Linked DNA regions of Homo sapiens: region 1 is linked to region 2. Evidence: fine-mapped expression QTL. A gene starts in region 2. The other region holds a variant in brackets. All regions are shown on one strand. Distances are from middle to middle.

What was found.
Region 1: its variant is fine-mapped to the expression of PRR5L in whole blood (TOPMed, PIP above 0.99).

What each region holds. Positions count from the first base shown.
Region 1 is chr11:36,407,118-36,412,499 of GRCh38, forward strand. All of the region lies in intron 3 of PRR5L (proline rich 5 like), which reads left to right. Among named protein-coding and RNA genes, the nearest start is that of TRAF6, 100 kb to the right of the region's middle. RefSeq lists an enhancer at 4,122-4,416. The variant C/T (reference allele first, on the strand shown) is at 2,181.
Region 2 is chr11:36,293,628-36,299,009 of GRCh38, forward strand. PRR5L (proline rich 5 like) reads left to right here and starts at 2,661. Exons shown (of 9, transcript NM_001160167.2): 1 at 2,661-2,811.

The DNA.
Region 1 (5,382 bases), 110 kb after region 2:
AAGTGATACATAATGGGTGAGTACGAGGCATGAGAACACAGGCCAACGTGATGAATTGCCCCATGAATAGTGCTGTGTATAACCCTCTCCAGGCCAGGTGTCATGCTCCCACCTGTAATCCCAGCTCTTTGGGAGGCTGAGGCAGGAGGATCGCTTGAGTCCAAGTGTTTGAGACCAGCTTTAATGAAACCCCAGTTTCTACAAAAAATACAAATAAAATGAAAAGCTGGGCGTGATGATGCATACTGCACTCCAGCCTGGGCAACAGAGCAAGATCCTGTCTCAGAAAAAACTTCTCCAGCAGTTTGGATGAGGTGAGCTCACTTTGAACTAGAGAGTCTGGGACAGAATCCTCAAAGAGTGGTGCCTGGAGTTGAAGTTTGGGTGAGGCTAAGTTCTTACAAGGAGAGCCAGCTGTTTCTCCTTTCCACAGAGAAAAGAACAAGAGGAAATGACTTTTTCAGTTCTCCATTCTACTGAACCCAAATGGTAATAAACTTTTTGATGGAGTATCCAAGTCTGGAGTCAAAGCCTAAATCAGATTCTTTGGGTCACTCATCCCAGCCACCCTGGCCACTTTCTATCTGTAGGGTTAGTATGTACCTGGGAAATACAAATTTATTTAAATAGTAGCCAATGCAAAGGATGACTAGGAAGGTAGATGTTTTATGTAACTGAGTCTTGTAATGCAGTCATTATTATAAGTGGCCTTTCCATTTAAGACATGTCTTTGAAAATAGACTCTAGTTTAAATGTTAGCAGATAGACTTTGAAGTAATTATGAGGAAGAACTTGGGACTGAGGATGGTCAAATTCTAAAACACAGTATTGGATCCAAAGACAGGTTTCTCCACCCTTTAAGAATAAATCTGTCAGGCCAGGTGCGGTGGCTCACCCCGTAGTCCCAGAACTTTGAGAGGCCAAGGCAGGTGGATCACCTGAGGTCAGGAGTTTGAGACCAGCCTGGCCAGCATGGCAAAACCCTGACTCTACTAAAAATACAAAAATTAGCCAGGTGTGGTGGTGTGCGCCTGTAATCCCAGCCAGCTATTTTTGGGAGGCTGAGGCAGGAGAATCGCTTGAACCTGGGAGACAGAGGTTGCAGTGAGCCAAGATCGTGCCACACTGCACTCCAGCCTGGGGGACAGAGAGAGAATTTGTCTCAAAAAAAAAAAAAATCCATCAGAAACGTCTCACCTCAATATAGCGGCCAATGTTGTCCCATGTAAAAGTCAGGGCACATGGTCTATTGATATGAAAACCATAAATCAGAATATTTCCCATTGAAACTGCCTTAGGCACAGCTTGCACATTGTAATATCTCTCAAGGCAAGAAAATGACCTTTCAGAATAGACGTATTCTAGCTAAATCCCCAGGCATCCCAATCAACAATTCTGGCTTCCCTAAATTTCCATCTGCCAGAGTTCGGGCTGATTCTGGGAGTCTTCTTGTTTTGAATTCTCAATGGGGTGTTAGTGCGGTTTTTAACACCCCTCTCCAGCCTCACCCCTGATGTGGCTGCATTTTGGCAGCGAGGAAAAGTCTGGGTTAGAGGTTTGGGTTTCATGAGCCCTTCCAAGAACAAGAGCAGCTAAGCTGACACAAGAGCACACTCTCCCTAAACAGTCTTTTCTGCCACCTCTCCCACTGATTTTATGTAACCGAGAAGAATTAGAAAAGTGTGAAAAAAGCAAGACTGATGTTTGCTGGTTCTTTGAAGAACCTGCTTGCCAATGTTCTTATAAGTGCTTTCAGTCTTTGAGTGTTGGGGTGTGTGTGTCGAAGCAGGGGCCATTGATTCATTGATTTATTTATTGAATAAATGTGGAGTGCTCTGCCCAGTACTGGGCTGTATACTGGGGTGGTCATTGAGTAGGTGGTTTGTGTCTTGGAGATCTTACAGCAGAATGAGAGAGGAACTGGGCAGGTAGTTCTCAGGCAACGCTTTTAGAGGGGTGATGGTGGAATCTGGAGTGCTGGGGGCATGTGGAGGATGGGCACACAATTAGACCTAGGAGAAAATGATATCCAAGTTGAAATCAGAAGTGGGAGCAGGCAGAAAGGGCAGTTGAGGATCTAACGTTCTTGCCACCACCACTCACTCCATGCCCTCCTGCCTCCTCAAACTCCCTGGGAGGACTTTTTCTCGGCAGAAATAAATGCTCAGAGATGAAGTTTC[C/T]GGAAACCAGAGATCAGTTATCTGCAGCCGGCCTGAGACAGGAAACGCACATTTTCCTTCTCTCTCCAACCACCCTGCTTCTGTTCTTGTTGGGAGGGGGGAGGTGGTGTGAAGAAAACCCCAGAGATTTTCAAGGAAAGAGGAGGTTCCAAGAATTGTGTTTGATCTCTGACAGGTCTGAGTTGAAATATCTTCCTTCTGAGTCAGTTGGTTGCCTGAAACCCAAAGGGAAATCCACCTCCGATTTTTCCATCTCTTTAACAGAGTGTTGACTGTAAGAGAGGGGGACCCACAGTAGGGGGGAAGAGCTGGGAGGGGACGGGAGGAAGGTGAGCCTGGATCCAGCTCACAGGCTGATGCCATAGACCAGTCCCAGGCCTGATGCCACGAGGTAATGATAACTGCAGACACTTGCTTAGCCTTTTAGTATATGCCAGGTTCCAAGTGCTTCATATGTGTCAACTCTTTTAAAACTCCCCACACCCTGTGAGATAGATACTGTATCCCTGTCTTACAAGGAGGAAGTACAGATACAGAGAGGTGGAATAACTCACCCAGAGTCATGTAGCCAGTAAGTGCCTGAGCTGGGATTTGAACCCAAGCCTCCCACATGCTTAAACCCTTAGTAAGTGGGCTGCAAGAGCCACACAGAGCTGGCATTATCCAGATTTGGGCTTGATGTACCTGGACATAGGTTCATGAATAGATCATGAGGTAAGGGGGGCATTGCCCTTCTGAGGAGCCTAGTTTTGGAGGGATTAAGATGAGGGCTCTTCTTGGTCTGGGTGACTCTGCCTGATGATGTGTTACTACCTTGTACCTGCTGTGGCTGAGAAACAGACTTGGCTTTCAGGTTAAGAAGGGTTGTTAGAAATGGCAGATTGGAAACCCATGGGGTTGGCGCATGTGGTTTGGCCTAAAAGTTGTTTAGAAATCTGGACATCTCACCTAGAACTCCAGGTTTCCGGCCTCTCTGGAAAGGTCAGATCTGGGCACTGGACTCACGGTCTGGTGTGGAGCCTGTCAGGGGAGCTGAGGCCTGGCTGCTGGCTTTAGAGGGACTTTCTTGGTCCTTACAGTACACACTCACTTGCCTCCCTTCTTTGCCTGCCTGCCCCTGTGGCATGGGGGGTACCACTGCCTGATTAGGTTGGCCTCCATTTGAGTTGGGATCTACCAATGTATGGCCCCTGGCAAAGCTCTGAGCATCGATCTTATCTGCAAAATGAGGATACACTCCTACCTGTGAGGCTGTTGGAGAATTTGAGATTCTGTGTGCAGACTGCCGAGCATAGTGTGCCACATAACTAGGAGCTCAATAAATGCTCTTCGTCAGTTTCCTCCATGTTTCTCACTATTCCCACTGCCACCCACTAGGATGCCGACACCCGAAGGGTGTGAGTACTCCATGTCCTGAGTCAAGGACACCACCTCCCATGGGCTCCCATGGAATGGACCAGAGAAGGGGAGGGGGCCTTTCTATCTGTTCCTGCTTAAGAGAAGCTGCCTCCTTGAAACATATCCTATTGCAGAAGTGAGGTGGGTGATTTCAGAGCATTCAGCAGTCAGGCTAGATGGGCACTGACCAGCTACAGCACTGGGCACAGGACTCTGGAGGACCCCTGCTGTTCCTGGATCTTGAGGCGGTCTGGGCGGATCTCACCAAAGGGCCAGGGTGCAGGGCCAGAGAACTTGGGGCAAACCCTACTTGCCAGATGGCGCAGAAATATTAACTACTGATATGGTTATTCCAACTCATCTTGGCTAACCTGCAGCACTTCTTGCAAGCTGCCTCATCGTCTTTAACCTCATGTGGGAAGAGAGTTGGGACAAGCAGCGGGATTTTGCCACCTTGGGTCTTTCTCTGTGTGCAAGGCAGACTGACTCCATCCGAGGTGATTTCCCTCTGTCACTTCCGCGCTTGCCCACTCTGCTGCCATCCTGCTGTCCCTGCGCCTCTCCACCAGCTTGATTCCAGCTTTTAGTAATGCCTCCTTTACCTTTAAGCCCACAGAAGTGGGAAGTTGAGTTGACAAGACGGTGAGGCGTGAGATCGCAGGTCTGTGTAATAACAGGAAATCCTGTCAACTGGGGTGGTGTCTCAGCTGGTCAGCCTGGGAGGGAGAAAGGGTGAGATAATGTAGACCAGTCAGTGCTTCCCCATTTTTTCCCCCTGTTATGGCTCCTTTTGGCTTCTGGCTGAACTTCACGCCCAGTTTCTCATTTTGGTCAGGCCCCGTGTAAGTGTCCCCTTCACATTACCCTCAGCTCCCGGCTTCCCTTTTTCTAGCTCAGTGGCTTGTGGTGGTGGTTGGTAGCAGCAGAATTCTGTTTTCAAATGAAACCAGGCATGGAAGTCCAATATGTGAAACAGATGGCATATGGGGGCTGCTGAGGCTGAGGGGTTGCTTTCATGTCAGTTACACGTCCCGGCAATTCTTTTCTCCAAAGCTCTGCCTCCACCTTCCTACCTTCTTATCCTTTCATCAGCTAGTCTGGCCCTACCTAACATATTACCTGCTTTATGAATTTCTCCTGGGTCCTCAATCCCAGTGTAGGAAATGCTAGTGTGGCTATACTTGTAGGAAGATGCGAGAAGCAGTGGGCTGGAGTTTTCAAGACCCAGGGCTTCAGAGTCCTGGGTGAAATCATAGTAGCTCATGCTTGCCAAGCCTTGCTGTGGGCCAGGCAGCGTTCTAGCAATTTGATGAGGATTAACCCATTTTACTTGTGCAGTAATCCTGTGAAGTAGGTATCCTTATCCTCCCCACATTCTAGGTGAGGAAACTGAAGTATGAAGAATCAGTGAATTTTCCCGGGTCATTGCTAACAACAGCTACTAAGTGGCTGCCAGGATGCAGAGCCAGGCAGCTCTGGGCTCCCTGATCTCAACAAGACACTTGTTATCTCTGGCCTGTGCTTGCTTGGGTCAGTTTCCTTGTATATTAAAATTGAGGATATTATTGCTGCTTACAGTTCTGTTTTAGGCTTAAATGTGGGAACGCCTACATTGTTGACAGTGGTGTCCAGCACCCAGCAAGTGCTCAATAAACTTTAATTGGAGAAAAAAATGCCGGGTTCCATCCTAGGAGCAATTTGTTTATTATTCGTTATGATGATGATGATTGTTTGTTCTAACAAGTAATTGCTTTTCTGTTGACAGGGCAGCAACCCTAGGATAGAGTGGGAAAAGCGGAAGGAA
Region 2 (5,382 bases):
GTTTAAAAAAAAAAAGAGACAGAGAGATGGGGGTCTCTGCTCTTTTACCCAGGCTGGAGTACAGTGGTGTAATCATGGCTCACTGTAGCCTCAAACTCCTGGGCTCAACTGATCTTCCCACTTCAGCCTCCTGAGTAGCTGGGACTACAAGCATGCACAACCATACCCAGCTAATTTGATTTTATTTGTTTTAGAGACAAAAAATATGTTTTGTCTCTAAAACATATGTTTGCTATGTTGCTCAGGCTGGTCTCAAACTCCTGGCCTCAAACGATCCTCCTGCCTCAGCCTTCTGAGTAGCTGGGATTACAGATGGGAGCCACTGCATCTGGCTCTGCCTTTTTGATTATAGTGATCCTAGTGGGTATGAAGTAGTATCTCATTGTGAGCCGTCTTGTTTTGAAGTTGCATTGGTATATCAAACACATTTTGTAACTGGTTCTGTCTTTTTGATTATAGCAATCTTAGCGGGTATGAAGTGGTATCTCATTGTGAGCAGTCTTGTTTTTAAGGTGCATTTGCATAGCAAACACATTTTGTCACTTACGCTACTTTGGTTCATTTGAGGTAACTGATGAAGGTTATGGAAGCTTAAATAAACTCCTATTCTCCCCTTTGGTTTCACTACTAAGTCCTGGCTGCCTTCTTTGTCAGAGGAATGCCTGCAGGAGGTGGATTAGGCCCAGGGTCCTGCAGTCCTTTAAGGAGAGCCCTTGCCACCCTCCTGTTATTCCCCTAGTTTCCCTTTTCCTCACCTTTGTCTCAGTCCAGAGATGAGGGTGGGTTGCAGGGGGAAAGGGCTGATCAATCTTTTTGACTTTATGCCCCCTTTGTGGCTTTGACGTGGCCTGATCAGCTCACCAGTCGTCTTAGTCCATATGGGCTAATATAACAAAATACCATAAACTGGGTGGCTTTATCAACAACAGAAATGTGTTGCTCATAGTTCTGGAGGCTGGGAAGTCCAAGACCAAGGCATTGGCAGATTCTATGTTTGATGAGGACGGTTTCCTGGTTCACAGATGGTGTCTTCTCACTGTGTCCTCAAATGGTGGCTGTGGGCAAGGGAGCTCTCTTGGGCCTCTTTATAAGGGCACTAATCCCATTCATGAGGGCTCCACACTCATGACCTAATCACCCCCCATAGGTCCCACCTCCAAATACCATCACCTGGGGGTGAAGATTTCAGCATATGAATTTGTGGGGGACGCATACACTCAGACCGTAGCGCAAGTTGGGGACAAAAGCTCTGAGTGTCAGCAGGGTTGCACTGGCTTGGAAATGCTGGAAATCTGGAAATTTCCAGATCAGGCATCACAAACTGCATGATCTAGGGCTCACATTGCATTAACAATGTTGTGTTTGGTCCACAGTGTTTCAAAATTGGAAAACTCGACATAAAAAATCCAGCCTTCTGGCTTTTCTTTAAAAATGTGCAGGCCCAACCATGCTGTTTCCACCTTTCTGCATTGCAGTATTTGGCTGAGGCTGAGCCCTGGCTGCCCTCTGAAGACTGGTGTGAGCTTTCAAATCCCCACAGTTCCCGCCACACACTGTTGCATCACAGTGGGCCCTCTCCACACATTTGTCACCTGTCTCATACTTGAGAATATTTATTAGTGCCCAATTCCTTCAGGGACCTAACAGGGTGAACTTAGGCCATAGTAGGTAACAGGGCTAAATACAGACACTTGGGATCCTGGCTTTCCAGCCATCCCCATACCATCTCCTCATGAGTACAAGCAAGTTTCAGGTGTAATGTGGGCATCTAATTTGTGATTTGTGGTTCTTGATCACTTTTATGGGCCAGCCACTGTTCTAAGAGTTTTGCATATATTAATTCATTTAATCCTCCTAGGAACCCAATCATAATCCCGGTTTACAGATGGGAAAACTAACACCCAGAGAAAACACTTGCTCACAGTCCATGGGTAATAGTTGCAGAGTCAGAATTTGAAGTCAGGAGCGAATGAGGTCATTTTGCAAGGTTGCTCATGACCTAGTGTCTGGTTCATTATGGGGGTTCAGTGGGTGCAAGCTTTATAATATTCATCTAGTCTTGCCAACTGCTGCTAACGTGCTGCATGGCTGAGGTTTAGTCCCAGCCAGATGTCCCATCACAAAAGTTAGGCATTGAAGTGGATGACATTTGTGTTTAGAGAAATGATATGTCTCATTCTTTTCAGCTCTAACTTGGGGTAAGTTTCTGAAAGCAAGTAAGAGAAAAGGAGAGGGACATTTGTGATCTCTCATGTATAGAAGACTAACAAAGAGGCAGGTGGTCACACCTGAAGGCACGTCCCCTGACCCTTATTACATAATGCCATGGGCTAAATGTCCAAAATTCCTCTCCCAGCTCTGATTGGCCTGGCTACTATGATGAGTGAAGTCCACCAGGGAAGACACTGTGGCCTCGTTTCTCATCCTCCTGTCCCCAGGAGTAACACAGAAGCAGCTAGTAACACAACAGCATTGTCCTCACATACACAGGCCTGCTTTGTTTCCCCACCACACAGAGCAGCCGCTGTAACAATGGCCCCGAATGACACTTTACCCTCCTTTCTCCAATGTTGCACTTGTTTTTTTAGTCTGGAATGGGCTAAACAATGATTTCCTGCAGGGGGTATCAGCTTTTTATATTTTCTGCCTGCTTCTCTGTCAGTCTTCAGGCCCCAGGTCAGTGAGTGGCAAGCCAGGCCCAGAGATCTCTGCGCCCGTTGGAACATCCCCTTCTCGGGAGGCTGGAAGGCCATGGTCATTCACCTCTCCCCAGCAAGGTGGGACCTGCCCTGGAAGAAGAAACCAGACCAGGTAACACAAGAGAGACAATGAGAGCTTGGGGCTAGGGGGTGGGGTTGCAGGGGATGGCTGAGTATCCAGCCCAAGGAGGATGGGTTTCTGGCTTCAAGACATCCGATTTTCTTGAAAGCCACCATCTGCTGTTAAATAAATAATGAAAAGCAACAGAGGTCAAGTTCAGCAGCCTCCCAGTTAGAAAAATACCCTCTGTCTGTCTGGCCCTGTTCAGTGCCTCTGATATCTCTGGGTGACCAGGGTCTTCATGGCCCATGTAGATTTACTGAGGTGGCTGTTGCCTTAATAATAGCTGCTAGTACTAAGCTCTTTCTCTATGTATTGCATATGTATACCTATTACTGTATGTCTCTCATTGAATGAATAGTAATGATAGCAAACCCTTATACAACATGCCTCAGATTCTTGCTTCTTTCAAACCCAGGGAGTCGGGTTCTAGAATCTGCGCTTTTCGTCATCATGCCCCTTGTAAAGCATTTTTTTTTACAACATCCTGCTAATAAACCAAGGTCATCACAATATTTCACTTTGAGAGGCAATGATATATGATGATAGCTATGTGTATTGTGAGTCCTTTGCCCTGTGCCAGGCAGCATTCTAACTGTTTTGCAGCTATTTCATCAGATAGATACTTTATGATCTCTATTTTATGGATGAGGAAATTGAAGTACGGATAATTTAAGTCATTCACCCGGGGTCACACAGTTGTTAAATGGCAGAGCCTGGATTTGAATTCAGTTTTCTCTTAAGTAGTATGGGAATCTTAGACCCGCCCAGCCCTGCTGGTCTGGAGTTATTCTGCTTCTCTAGGTCATGGTGTATAGAGGGTGACATTCAGTTTCTGGCTTCATAGAACATCTGCACCCAAGTTGACAGCTTAAGGAATTTTTTCGTTTGTTTATTTTAAATGATTTTTCTATTGGCATCAGCTTTTGTCTTGCTTGAAGAAGATGGAATTGCTCAATGACGACAGTGAAGGAATTTGAAAGGGTAAGAATTGCTCAATGAGTGGTATCTCTTTTTTGGCCAGAGACCAGGCTAAGTTGCCTCATATGTAAGAGAACATACGTCAAATACACAGGACTCATGGTATATTATGGAAGCAAACTTTATTTTTGCCTATCATTGTCCCTAATTTTTTTCAGCAGGTCCTCCCTCTTCCCTTGCCCTGGGATGAAAATTAAGGTAGGTCCACAACTCTTATGGGCCCCCTTCAGGAATCAAAAGTTCTTAAGTCGCTTTTAGTTCCAGCACAGCCTCATTCAGCAATTGGGATGTCCAGTCCCAGGGAATCAGCCAGATCTTTGAATTTGGTTCCCAGTGGAGACTTTTCTCCCTCCTCCAGTGGGGCCTGCAGCTTGGAAAGGGGGTCTGTGGTTGGCTTCTCATTTCCCACGTTAAGCTTCCATCCTTCTCTCCTCTGGCTTACTGATGATTCTGACTCCTGGCAGGGGGAAGGGGAAAAGAGAAGAGGCAGGAAAGGAGCTGGAAGTCCGTACTTGGTTAATGCTGTGGCAAGCTGGCATTTCAGTGGCAGGTTCTGGTGGGTGTGTAAACCTAGTTCTTTCTCTCTAGGCACAATCTTGTGGATACTTCAGAGAGCACCATTATTTCTCATCTTTGGGGATCTCTGAGTTGCTGGTCCCTTGAAGCTGGTTGCCTAATAAGACTCCTTCCTTAGTTCCCTGGCATCTAAGCAGTGCCGTATTAGTTTGCTGGGACTGCCATGACAAAATATCACAGACTGAGGGGCTTAAACCAGCAGTCCCCAATTTTTTTGGTACCAGAGACCAGTTTTGTAGATGACACTTTTTTCCACAGACCAGGGTAGGGATGGTTTCAGGATGATTCAAGTGCATTACATTTATTGAGAACCTTATTTATATTATTATTACATTGTAATATATAATGAAATAATTACACAATTCACCACAGTGTAGAATCAGTGGGAGCCCTAAACTTGTTTTCCTCCAATTAGACAGTCCCATATGGGGGTGATGGGAACCAGTGACAGATCATCAGGCATTAGATTCTCATAAGGAGCATGCAAACTAGACCCCTCACATGCGCAGTTCACAATAGGGTTTGTGCTCCTATGAGAATCTAATGCTGCTGCTGATCTGACAGGAGGTGGAGCTCAGGTGGTAATGTGAATGATTGGGAGCAGCTGTAAATATGGATGAAGCTTCGTGCTCTCTCTGTCCCTGCTGTGTGGCCTGGTTCCTAACAGACCACAGACCAGTACTGGTCCATGGCCCGGGAGTTGGGGGCCCCGGGCTTAAACAACAGAACTTAATTTTCTCCCAGTTCTGGAGGTTAAAAGTCCAAGATCAAGGTGTTGGAAGGTTTGTTTTCTCCTGAGGTCTCTGTCCTTGGCTTGTGGATGGCCACCTTCTCACTGAGTTCTCACATGGTCTTTCCTCTGTGTGTGCATTCCTGGTGTCTCTTGGCATGTGCAAATGTCCTCTTCTTATAAGGACAGCAGTCAGAGAGGATTAAGGCCTACCCTAAGGGGTTCATTTTAACTTAATCACATTTTTAAAGGTCCTGCTTCTAAATGCAGTCACA